Homo sapiens: one gene and its partners. The protein of the gene in region 3 purifies or fractionates together with the protein of the main gene of each other region. This does not show direct contact. Each region holds a gene or a part of one and is shown on either strand. Other genes may lie near its edges. The genes, in order: GNAZ, IREB2 and CCNL2.

The links.
Region 1: the proteins of CCNL2 (region 3) and GNAZ purify together in Homo sapiens (affinity purification with mass spectrometry; 2 studies listed by BioGRID and IntAct, with this or other methods). This does not show direct contact.
Region 2: the proteins of CCNL2 (region 3) and IREB2 purify together in Homo sapiens (affinity purification with mass spectrometry; 3 studies listed by BioGRID and IntAct, with this or other methods). This does not show direct contact.

What each region holds. Positions count from the first base shown.
Region 1 is NC_000022.11:23,094,519-23,098,018, reverse strand, and holds part of GNAZ (guanine nucleotide-binding protein G(z) subunit alpha), read right to left. Parts: intron 2,773-3,500; 5' UTR 2,324-2,772; coding exon 1,601-2,323; intron 1-1,600. UniProt on the Homo sapiens protein: Guanine nucleotide-binding proteins (G proteins) are involved as modulators or transducers in various transmembrane signaling systems.
Region 2 is NC_000015.10:78,490,014-78,493,737, reverse strand, and holds part of IREB2 (iron-responsive element-binding protein 2), read right to left. Parts: intron 3,317-3,724; coding exon 3,212-3,316; intron 3,120-3,211; coding exon 2,977-3,119; intron 1-2,976. UniProt on the Homo sapiens protein: RNA-binding protein that binds to iron-responsive elements (IRES), which are stem-loop structures found in the 5'-UTR of ferritin, and delta aminolevulinic acid synthase mRNAs, and in the 3'-UTR of transferrin receptor mRNA.
Region 3 is NC_000001.11:1,389,147-1,392,870, forward strand, and holds part of CCNL2 (cyclin-L2), read right to left. Parts: intron 3,659-3,724; exon of another isoform or gene 3,658-3,658; coding exon of another isoform or gene 3,636-3,657; exon of another isoform or gene 2,444-3,635; coding exon of another isoform or gene 2,151-2,443; exon of another isoform or gene 1,720-2,150; coding exon 1,620-1,719; intron 1,418-1,619; coding exon 1,313-1,417; intron 1,226-1,312; coding exon 1,084-1,225; intron 1-1,083. UniProt on the Homo sapiens protein: Involved in pre-mRNA splicing. May induce cell death, possibly by acting on the transcription and RNA processing of apoptosis-related factors.

The DNA of each region.
Region 1 (3,500 bases), on a different chromosome or scaffold from region 3:
CTCCATGAAAAACTGGACTGACTCAGGACCCAGGTATCCTGCCTCCTGTGTCCAGCACACCTGTGGGCACGGCCTGTCAAAGGATGCAACTGGGAGCCAGGCCTGGTGCCCGGGGAATTTGCCACGCCTGCCACTGTGGTGATGGGTGAGGCCAGTGGCGCAAGCCCGTGTGACTGGCAGACCCACCATGGCACTGTCCCAAGGGTCTGGCCTGAGCACCTCACTTTGCCTTGCAGCTTCTCAGCCCCAAGCGCTCTGCCCACGGCCATGCCTCATCAAGGGAGCCTGACCTCACTCATCTGCTGAGATGTCCCCTCTGCCCAGAACCACACATGGGGCTGAACTTGTGGCAACCACAGGGTAAGGGGCCAGAACCCTGGAGAGCACACAGATACACACTGGGAACAGGGTGGACGCAGCCGCCTGCGTACACACCTGCCTGCCCGTCCGTCATTCGTTTCCCCCAGGCACACCATCAACACCTAGGCACAGTTCCAGGGAGACCCCTGATGCGAGGAGGGGAGGGAGGCAAGCCCGCCTCCCCAGCTGCCTGAGGAAAGCCAAAGATCCTCTCTCTCAGAACACTCAGGCTCCTAGCACCATGGCCACTGCCTAGAGCTGTCCAGGTTCCCTGGCTGGGGCACAGGTCCAAAGCTAGAACCATTGTTGCTCTCCGCTGAACCTAAAGAATAAAGCTTGCCTTAGGACTGGGTGAAGCAAGGAGTGACCTCGGAGGCCAGTGCTCCCAAGTGGAGAGGCTGAGCCCTTGTCTCCCAGCATCACCCTCCCCTAGCCCCAGGGTACCCACAACTTCGTGACTCCTTGTTTGCCCCCACTCCCCCATCCCCAGGGTCAAAGGCCTCTCTCTTAAGGGCAGACTTGAAATCTGTGCTCAGGGAATCCTGCTGGGCAAGACAGCCCCTCCCTTGCCTGCCACGGCCTCCACCGCTGCCACTCCTGGCTGTGGCCCCCTTCGTGTGCTAGACCTTCTGTCCTGGCTGGGCCTCAGCACACTGCCCTGCTGCTTCACCCGGCTCCCCACCCTCTCCAGCAACTCCACTCTCAAGCCCCCACCGCTTCACACTGGGTCCAGGTCTCCCTCGGGCTGCGCCCATGCCACTGTGAAAGAATCCCAACACCTGCTTTTACGTCGTCCCCTTTCCACCAGGACCTGGGATTATCCCTTCTAAACAGCTCTTAACCCCATCTCTGCCAGATTTGCAGACTCAAGATGGGGTTGCAGGGGTGGCTGCTGTTCCTGGACCTATATGCTGGTAGGAGACTGGTGCTGGCAGGAGCTTCATGGATTTGCCAAACTATCACATGGATTGATCATGGATGCCCGGCGGAGCCTCACACTCTCTTGCCCTGTGGCCTCCACACCCTGAGTACTTCAGGCATGGGACATGACACCTGCACTCCACACCCTGTTCCCTCTGCCCCCACCTTGCTGGAGCTGCCTCAGTTATCGTGCAGCAGGGCCAGGCCTGCGCCTGGTTCCCTTTCTGGCTGCAGACTGTCCTGGACCTCACGAGTCCTCTTGCTTCCAGGAACCCACGACAGCAGGAACAAGCAGAGGAAAACCCCCGGCCCCACTTACTGTCTGGTTATCCTCGTAGAGTTTCAGGTCGTAGCCGCTGAGCTCCACACAGAAGATGATGGCTGTGACGCCCTCGAAGCAGTGGATCCACTTTTTGCGCTCTGACCTCTGCCCCCCCACGTCCACCATCTTGAAGGTGAGCTCCTTGAAGGTGAACTTGTTCTCCACAATGCCCGTGGTCATGTCCCGGGAGCGCAGGATGTCCTCGACAGTGGGGATATAGTCAGCTGCGGCGATGCGCTCCAGGTCGTTCAGGTAGTAGGCCGCGTTGTCCTCCAGGTGGTACTCGCTGGAGCGGCTGAAGCAGGCCTGTGCCCCTGGGTCGGCCCAGAGCCGTCGCATGACACCCAGCAGCTCGGGTGTGATCTCGCCCTTGCTCTCAGCGGGGCCCGTCAGCGCAAAGAGCTGCACAGCGTCGTAGGCGCGGTCGGGGTTGTGGAAGTCGATCCTGAGGGCGGCCAGGGCCCGGATGATGCGGGTCAGCGAGTCGATGGCATTGTAGATGATGAGGGGCTTGTACTCCTTGCAGGCCTCCAGGTTGAAGCCGCCGCTGTGGATGATCTTCATCTGTTTGACGATGGTGCTCTTGCCTGAGTTGCTGGTGCCCAGCAGGAGCAGCTTGATTTCGCGGCGTTGCCGCTGGCTCTCTGAGCGCAGGTGGCGGTCAATTCTCCGGGACCGCCGGGCTGCTTCTTTTTCCTCTGAGCTTTGCCGACATCCCATGGTCTGGCAGCAGCGGGCCCAGACAAGGAGCACGGGATGGGGCACCTCTCCCTCTTGCCACAGGGGACACTGAGACCAGGCAGACAAGAGCCCAGCTGCCCTGGAGGCACTCAGTGCCAGCAGGGGGGTGAGGCCGAGCCACACTGCAGCCCCTGCCCCAGCGCCTCTTCTCCAGCCGGCATGGCGCTCTGTGCAGCGGGCGGTGGCCGCCCCTCCCCACTAGTGACACTCCACCTCCCTAGTTGGCAAAGTGGCCTGATTTGCCGTAGTCATTCCCTGTCCTCGGCGACGGTGGGAAGCCGTCCGCTTGTGTTTGCCTCGGCTGCTGCCGTCTGGTTGCTGGTTGCTGTGGCGATGTTGCTGAGTGGCTGGAGGGTTGGAGGGCCGGTCGCTGGTGTGCTCCCTGCAGCCCCCCGCCTCCGGCTCCCACTGTGCATCCAGCCCTTCACCTGCCAAACACAGAGAAAAGCGTGAGCCTCCTCCCCGCAGCCCCACCTCAGGCTGGACAGTGAAAGGGAGCTCTTCTGAAAGCAAAGCAGCAGAGACTGGCCTTGGAAAATGAGCCGGCAACAATCCATCCAACCCCCTCTCCTCCATGGGGCGCTGTAGGGCCCACACCATGGTGTAACACATATGTCTGCTGTTGCCTGGACAGTCCACCTGAAGCCAGGTGCATGAGGGAGAGGAGGGTGTGTGCGAGGCCTCTGCCCACCCAGCCCCCATGCTGGACTCACTTCTACCGCATCCAGTTAGGATTCAATAAGGTCACCCTGTTGTGATGCCCCCTGGGGCCCTTCTCCCAGACAGCACTGATAGAGCTCAGCCTTGCCCTGTTTTACACGGGTGGCCAGGCCTCGGCCCAGCCCTGGGATAACTGAGCGCCTCCCTGACTCTCATTACCCCCGCAGGAGCTGGGTCACTTCTGATCACAGGGAGGAAAAGCACCAGGAGGGAGACCTGGCCCCTGCTTTCCCTTGAGGGCACTCTGATGGGCCAGCCCAGGAGCCAGCAGATAGGCAGGGACCAGAGCAAGGTGGAGGCTTCAGGCTGTGGGAGCACCGTGAGGTGCCTAAGCACAGTGGGCAGGGGCTGCCTCACTCCTGCAGAAGGAGGTAGAGGGGGGCTTGGGCTGAGACCAAGGAGCTGGGGGCTGCACGTGGTGCTGCGGGGAAATCCA
Region 2 (3,724 bases), on a different chromosome or scaffold from region 3:
TCCGTTTCTTCTACAGTCAACCCCATTAGATTATTTTGAAGCAAAACTGAGATAATTTTAACAGCATACTTTTCAGTACATTTCACTAAAAGATGTAGACTCTTAAAAAAAAATCTTTACACCAAAAAAAAAAAATCACAATAATTTCTTAACATCAGATAGTCAATATTGTCACTGATTATTTCCAAACTAAGTTGGTTTGTTCAAATCAGGATCCAAATGCAGTTCATAAATGTGTTCAGTTGATCTCAAGTGTTTTAATCTACAGTTGACCTTTAAACATGAATTTGAGTTGTGTGGGTCCACTTATACATCGATTTTTTTTCAACCAAACACTGACAGAAAATATATTATTCACAGGATGCAGAAAACTGCAAATACGACTTTTCATATATGTGGCTTCTGCAAGGCTGACTGTAGGAATTCAGTATGTGTGGATTTGGGTATACATGGGTGGTCCTGGAACCAGTCCCACATCTATACTGAAGAATGACAGTATATGTTCCCTCTCCTTCCTCCTGCTTGTGCTCTATCTGATGCAATAAAGTTACTTGTATAGTTTTCTGTACCCACATTGTGTTGACTGCATCTCCATGAATCATTTAACATGTTCTTCTGCCTTCTGTTCTTGTAAATCACATGTCAGATCCAGTGGTTTGATAAGATTTGGGTTTTTAATTTTTGGCAACAATGCTTCATAGGTCATATGTACTTCTATTAGGAGGCACAAGATAGCCAACTGTCTTTTCCTGGAATGTTACCAGTGATTGCTCATTGTGGTCTAGATTGCTTATTAGAGACCGTAAAATAGTGATACTATAATTCACCCATTCCTTCTTCATTTTTTAGGTACAAAAGTTCTATAAAGAAAAACTTTCCAGCAGGTATGTTGGCTCTTGCCTGCAATACCAGCACTCTGGGAGGCCAAAGTGGGAGGAATGCTCGAGCCCATGTGTTGGAGACCAGCCTGTGCAACAAAGGGAGATCTCATCTCTACAAAAAATTAAAAATTATCCAGGCATGACGGTGCGAGCCTGTAGTCCCAAGCTACTCAGGAGGGTGAGACAGGAGGAGTGCTTGAGCCCACGAGTTCCAAGCAGCAGAGGGCCAAGTGCCACTGCCTTTCAGCCCAGGCAAGAGTGAGACCCTGTCTCTAAAAACAAACAAACAAACAAATGACAAACTTTCCTTCATCAATGATTTGGTTATGCTGAAATACATTCCATACATGAAAGGCTGGTTAAAGAATTGATTATTTACCAGTTTTCAAGCTAATGAGCTGGTCCTGACCCTGAGACCTTTAGACAGAAGCCTGATGGTCTGTGACCATCAGGTAATCTTTGTAATTTTATTTTTGGTAATCTTGGTAATTTTTGGTAAAATTGTGTACATTTTCCAGTCCCAGATCTGGAATCAATAATTTCTCCATGAAGCACTGGTTCACTATAGTGGGAAACAGTATTTAGAAATCATAATCTGGGTGCGGGGGGTATTGCTACTGGATTAGTGACCATATATAACTTTTTAGGGAAAAATAACTGAACATAAGTATCTCAACAATCAACAACTGACTTTTATCAGCCTCTGATTTGGTCTTTTATGCAGAGGCAACAATATTCTAAATTTGTGCATTTAAATTTTTACTTCAGGATGGGAGTGGTAGGAGGTTTGAGTGTCTTTATTTTTAGAAAATTCTAATTGATGAGCACTACTGGATTAAATGTGCTAAGAAATACATATCAGGAGGCATAATAATTACAAAAATTGTACATTTGAGAGAAGTGTTGACTGTTTTTCTTTTTTGGAGGTATGTCACAATTATGATGAAGATGGAAATCACAACCAAAAAAATATTTACAGGAAAGGAAACTTATTTCTCACCACTTTATAATAAAAGCTGTGCAATATTATCACATGTCAACACAAGCTACATTGACATTTTGGCTGGGCACGGTTGCTCATGCCTGTAATCCCAGCAATTTGGGGGGCCGAGGTGGGCGGATCACTTGGTCAGGAGTTTGATACCAGCCTGACCAACATGGTGAAACCCTGTCTCTACTAAAAATATAAAAACTTGCTGGGCATGGTGGCGCGTGCCTGTAATCCCAGCTAGTTGGGAGGCTGAGGTAGGAGAATTGCTTGAACCCGGGATGCAGAGGTGGCAGTGAGCTGAGATCACACCACTGCACTCCAGCCTGGGTGACAGAGTGAGTCTGTCTCAAAAATAAATACATAAATAAATACATACATAAATAAATAAATTTCAATGAAAAAGCTTGTCATTTTAATTACTCAAGCATCAAACAAGCATCCAATAAGCTAATCAGGTAGCAGTACTACAAATCCTGCTTTTAACAAAACTTTGTCTCTATTGTCAAAACAGTCCTTTGATAACAGGGCAACTCTACATGATTAATCATGTAGAAATGAAATCTTACCAGTTTTAAATTTATATCTCCAATATAAATGGCCTTTACGTTTATTGTTCCTATAAAATTTTAGGCTCATGAAGCAGAAATTCATTGTCTTTTGATTTGTACATATCATTCCCAGCCTCACACACGTACATGTTATAGCCCATAAAATACACATTTAAATTCCTTACTCCAATAATGGGAAGCTGGTTTTAACCAAATGAGCAGGCTTCATTTGGTAGGTAAAACCAAGCTGACTTTTCAATAAAGTAGCACTGAAAAAGAAAAATCTTATTTCCAATCAGCTGTTTATTTAGACTATAAGGGCTCAATTTAAAATTGCAATTTCATTTTCTAAAGTCACAAGCAAAGACAAGTACAGAAGGTACCCCCCGCCTCCCCACCCCGCCACTCTCCATTCTTGCTTAAGACAAACACATTGGCAGTCAGATTACCTACGATAGCATGTATTTACTGGAAAAAAGGAACAAGACCAATAGAAGCCTCTTAATCAGTAAGAAACAAGAAAAAACAAAAACACTCTAAAGCCATGTACACATACCCTCTGTTTGTCAAATACTTAGCGGCAGCACTATTCCTAGCGATACTTCCTGCAGGTGATATATGATCTGTTGTGACAGAGTCTCCCAAATATAATAAGACATGGGCATTTTCAATAGCCTGGAGTGCAATTGGCTCTTTGGTCTAGAAGGTAAAAGTTCAAGGCATTTAACTCTTTACAAGACTTCTTAGTTTATAACAATCTTTAAAAGATCAAATAGTAAAACAGTACTTACAAGTTTATCAAAAAATGAAGGGCATCTGATATAAGTAGACTTTAAGTCCCATGGAAACAAAACTGAATCCGGTGCTTCTAAGGAATTCCACCGTTTATTCCCCATCTGTGAATACAGTTTTCGTTGATGAACCAAAGCAAAGATAAAAGGACTCAGAAAAAGAGGCGCATGAAAATGATCAAGGGAATAAAATAGTACTTAGGTCACAACAACAACAACAAAAATAGGCCTTATCCATTTGGAAAGAAAATTAAGAGTGTATTCTTTTCTTTTTTTTAAAAAATTTTAAATTTTTATTTTTGCCCAGGCTGGTCTTAAACTCCTGAGCTCAAGCGATACGTGGGCCTTGGCCTCCCTGAGGGTTGGGATTATAGGCATTAGCCACCATGCCCAGCCAAAACAGTGTGTTCTAAAAAATCATGATGTTTTTGGACAGAATGATTAAAAATTTGCTCCTCAAATTCTAGCATACCAGATGTTCAGGAACACTCCAAGGGGCAAGTTTCAATATAA
Region 3 (3,724 bases):
TGGATCACGAAGCCAGATTGAGACCATCCTGGCTAACACGGTGAAACACCATATCTACTAAAAATACAAAAAATTAGCCAGGCGTGGTGGCGGCCACCTGTAGTCCCAGCTACTCAGGAGGCTGAGGCAGGAGAATGGCATGAACCCGGGAGGTGGAGCTTGCAATGAGCTGAGATCGCACCACTGCACTCCAGCCTGGACGACAGAGCGAGACTCCATCTCAAAAAAAAGAACTGCAGACAGGCCCTTTGCATCACACTGAACTCTAGGTCTGATGACGTGTATCATCTATGGCCCCACACTATAACACCTTCATCAGATGACAAGCTACCTGGGCAGCAGGATAAACAAAAGCATTTCAGACAACCTGTCATACTCCCTGCTAATCAACAGAAAGGCCAGGTGCCTATGCTCCTAGCACTCTGGGACGCTGAGGCAGGACAATCACTTGAGGCCAGGAAATTCAAGAGCAGCCCGGCCAACATAGCAAGACCCAGACTCAACTAAAAAGATAAAGAATTAGCTAAGCACAGCTGGGCACGGTGGCTCACGCCTGTAATCCCAGCACTTTGGGAGGCTGAGGTGGGCAGATCACGAGGTCAGGAGATCGAGACCATCCTGGCTAACCTGGTGAAACCCCGTCTCTACTAAAAATTCAAAAAATTAGCCAGGCGTGGTGGCGGCCACCTGCAGTCCCAGCTACTCAGGAGGCTGAGGCAGGAGAATGGTGTGAACTCAGGAGGCGGAGCTTGCAGTGAGAGGAAATTGCGCCACTGCACTCCAGCCTGGGCTGGAGCAAGACTCTGTCTCAAACAAAAAGAATTAGCCAAGCATGGTGGCATGTGCCTGTAGTCCTAGCTATGCAGAAAGCTGAGGTGGGAGGATCACTTGAATCCAGGAGTTGGAAGCTGCAGTGAGCTGCGATCACACCACCATACTCCAGCCTGGGTGACAGAGACCCTGTCTCAAAAAAAAAAAAAAAAAAAATGTCTGGAAGGAGCACATACCCCAGAATGGAGGCGGGGGAGAGTCACCAGTCTTTGCCTTTGTGGGGAGTGGATTCCTGCACTCTAACAGACTCACCCAGCTTGGGGGCAGGAGAGAACCCCGAGGTACCATCCAGCACCTGTGTGCCCCCAGGCAACAGGCCCCGGGCTTGGGCCTTTGCCTCTTCGATAGCGTGCTTTCTTTTTTCCACTTCACCCTCCAGGTGTGTGAGATCAACCTGCAAAAGCCAGAAGGTGTCCGTTCAGAACCAGGTGTTTCTGGCCAAACACAAACGCATACGTTACATGAAAAAATGCCGAAGAACCTTTTTCCGAGCATAAAGCTGCAAGATCTTTAAGCAGATTTCCTGAATTTCTTCTTCAGTTGCTCCAAACAAAAGAAACCAATGGGGACGATTGGGCAAAGGGATCTGTAAAAACAAACACTATCATCATTACACTTTCCTCAACTTCACGGCCAGCAAGACTCAGGACAATTAAAAAACAGCCTGTTGGTCACGAAAATGCTTTGGCCCAGATTAGAGTAATTTGAAGAATAACACAGTAAAGTTTACTGGAGGCTGGAGAAAAAAAAATCAGACTAGAATCTCTCCATAGTAGCAACACACTGACCTCCAGCGTCCGGGCAGCAAGATAAATGCAGGCACAGGCGATGCTCTCTGGCTGGAACCGCACGAAGACGTCGGTGCGAAGGCTGTCGTTCATGTAATTCCTGGAAGCCAAACACAGGAAGAACTGCAATGCCCCACCCGGGAACCCAGGTCTTCCGCCTGCATTATCTAGAGAAAATCTAGATAAACGTACTACTCCTCTAAGGAGTCTATTGCTAGGACTCAGAGCTAGACAGTCCTGTGAATCTCAAGAGTTAATGGAGAAATATTCTAGCTGCTTTTTCTAAATACAGTAAATACAGGACAGAAAGGCACAGAAATTATTAGAAAAAAAAAAAGCTGGCTGAATGTCAGACAATACGTGTTGCTATGAAAGAGAACCGACTTTAACTTTACTTTTCCCCTCAACCTTGGCCTGCTCTCATGCAAAGCACGATGCCTCAGAAAGAAAATGTCTACTGGAGTCACTAAAACGCTTTTGATTAAAGAAATCTAAATGCTCAAAATCCATAGTGCAGAGAAACATGCAAACTCAAATGAACTGGCTGAGCACAAAGCCGGTGTGGCTGCTGGGAGACAAGCCATCCTCTTGGGTTCCTCTTCCTCTTCCTCCAGGGCGCTGGCGGCAGGCCCCTTCTCTGCTGACCGAGCTGCAGCTTCCTTGAAGGAGTCCACTTGGAAGAGGGAAAAGCCCCTTGGGTGCAAGTTGGACGCGTGGGAGCATCGTGCGGAGGGAGACTCCGCACCCAAGGGCAGGCCTCTTCTCGGGCTCATCAGAGCCGCTGCCAACTGTCCCATTTCAACAAGGGGTCTTAAAATGAACATTCATAGAATCAGAAGCAACACAATACTGAGAAGCAACATGATACTGAGAAGCAACATAATACTGAACATTTCATCACAGTACATTCTTTAACTTTCATATTTAGAAGCTATAAACATACAAAAATTTACATTTTTTAAAAGTTAAAGCATTTAAAACCTGGCTACATTTTGAGCATTTCCTTTAGATCTCTAAGATTTAATAGACTAAAACCAGACCTTACACTAGCTTTATGAATACTGCAAAAACAGAAAGGGTGATTCCATGAGGACAGTTGAACTGGTTTTATATTTACTGCTCCTCACATACCCCAATAACGGGGAGCCTTGGAGTGGGGCTGCACCCGCAGACGAGGTGGGTTGTGAGGGAATCTGACCCATGACCTTCCAGCAATATCTCTGTCCTAAATAAACCTTGGAGAAGGTAACATACAAACCCACTCAAGAGATTTCTAAATGGGAAGTCCTACAGGTGCCTCTTGGAGACACCCGGCTCTGGAAGCAGCTCCAGGCATCACGGGGGAATCTGTGTGGCGGCCGTGTGGCCCCAGCCCCTGATGCAAGCGTGCCAGTGCACAGCTCTAACACAGATACATTCAACAATCAGTAACCTTTCGGTGTCTAATCAACAACTGTCAGTATTCAAGTAGTGATATTAATCCACGAACTTAAAATTCTTAAAAACAAATGAAATCTTGAGAACATATAAACTTATTGCTGTATTTGAAGTGATACAATATTTTTCAAAGTATCCATGAAATAATTTAAAGATGCACACCTTTTACCAGAGCGTGTCATGCAAAGCTGCTCAAAAGAGCAACTTCAGGGCTTCTAGAAATCATGACATAACCCCACACTGACACAGCCAATTTGTCTCTTCAATTCTCACAGCTTTCCATAGCATTTTTTTTTAAGAGAAAGGTACTGCATCTTTATCATACAGGTACAGCAGTTTTAAAGGGACAAAATTCAAGTCAAGACAGTTACCAACTCTAATCAATACGATTACCAAAGCACGACAGAGGATTAACAAGAAGCACAATCGTCAGAGAACCACAGCAGGAGTCGGCCATGGCTATGCTATGTGCGTACCACCAGTCTAGAGCCAGCCTTCGGTGGAGAGCCTGCACTGGATTGGCTGAAGATGCCGCTGTCCCTGCACCAAAGCGCTTGGACAGCAGAGGAGAAGTCTTAGTCACTTACCCTCAGAGGCTACCCTTTGATTGAAAGAGTACAGAAAAGAAAAGTCAAAATAGGTTCTCTATTAAACATGTCATAGCACCA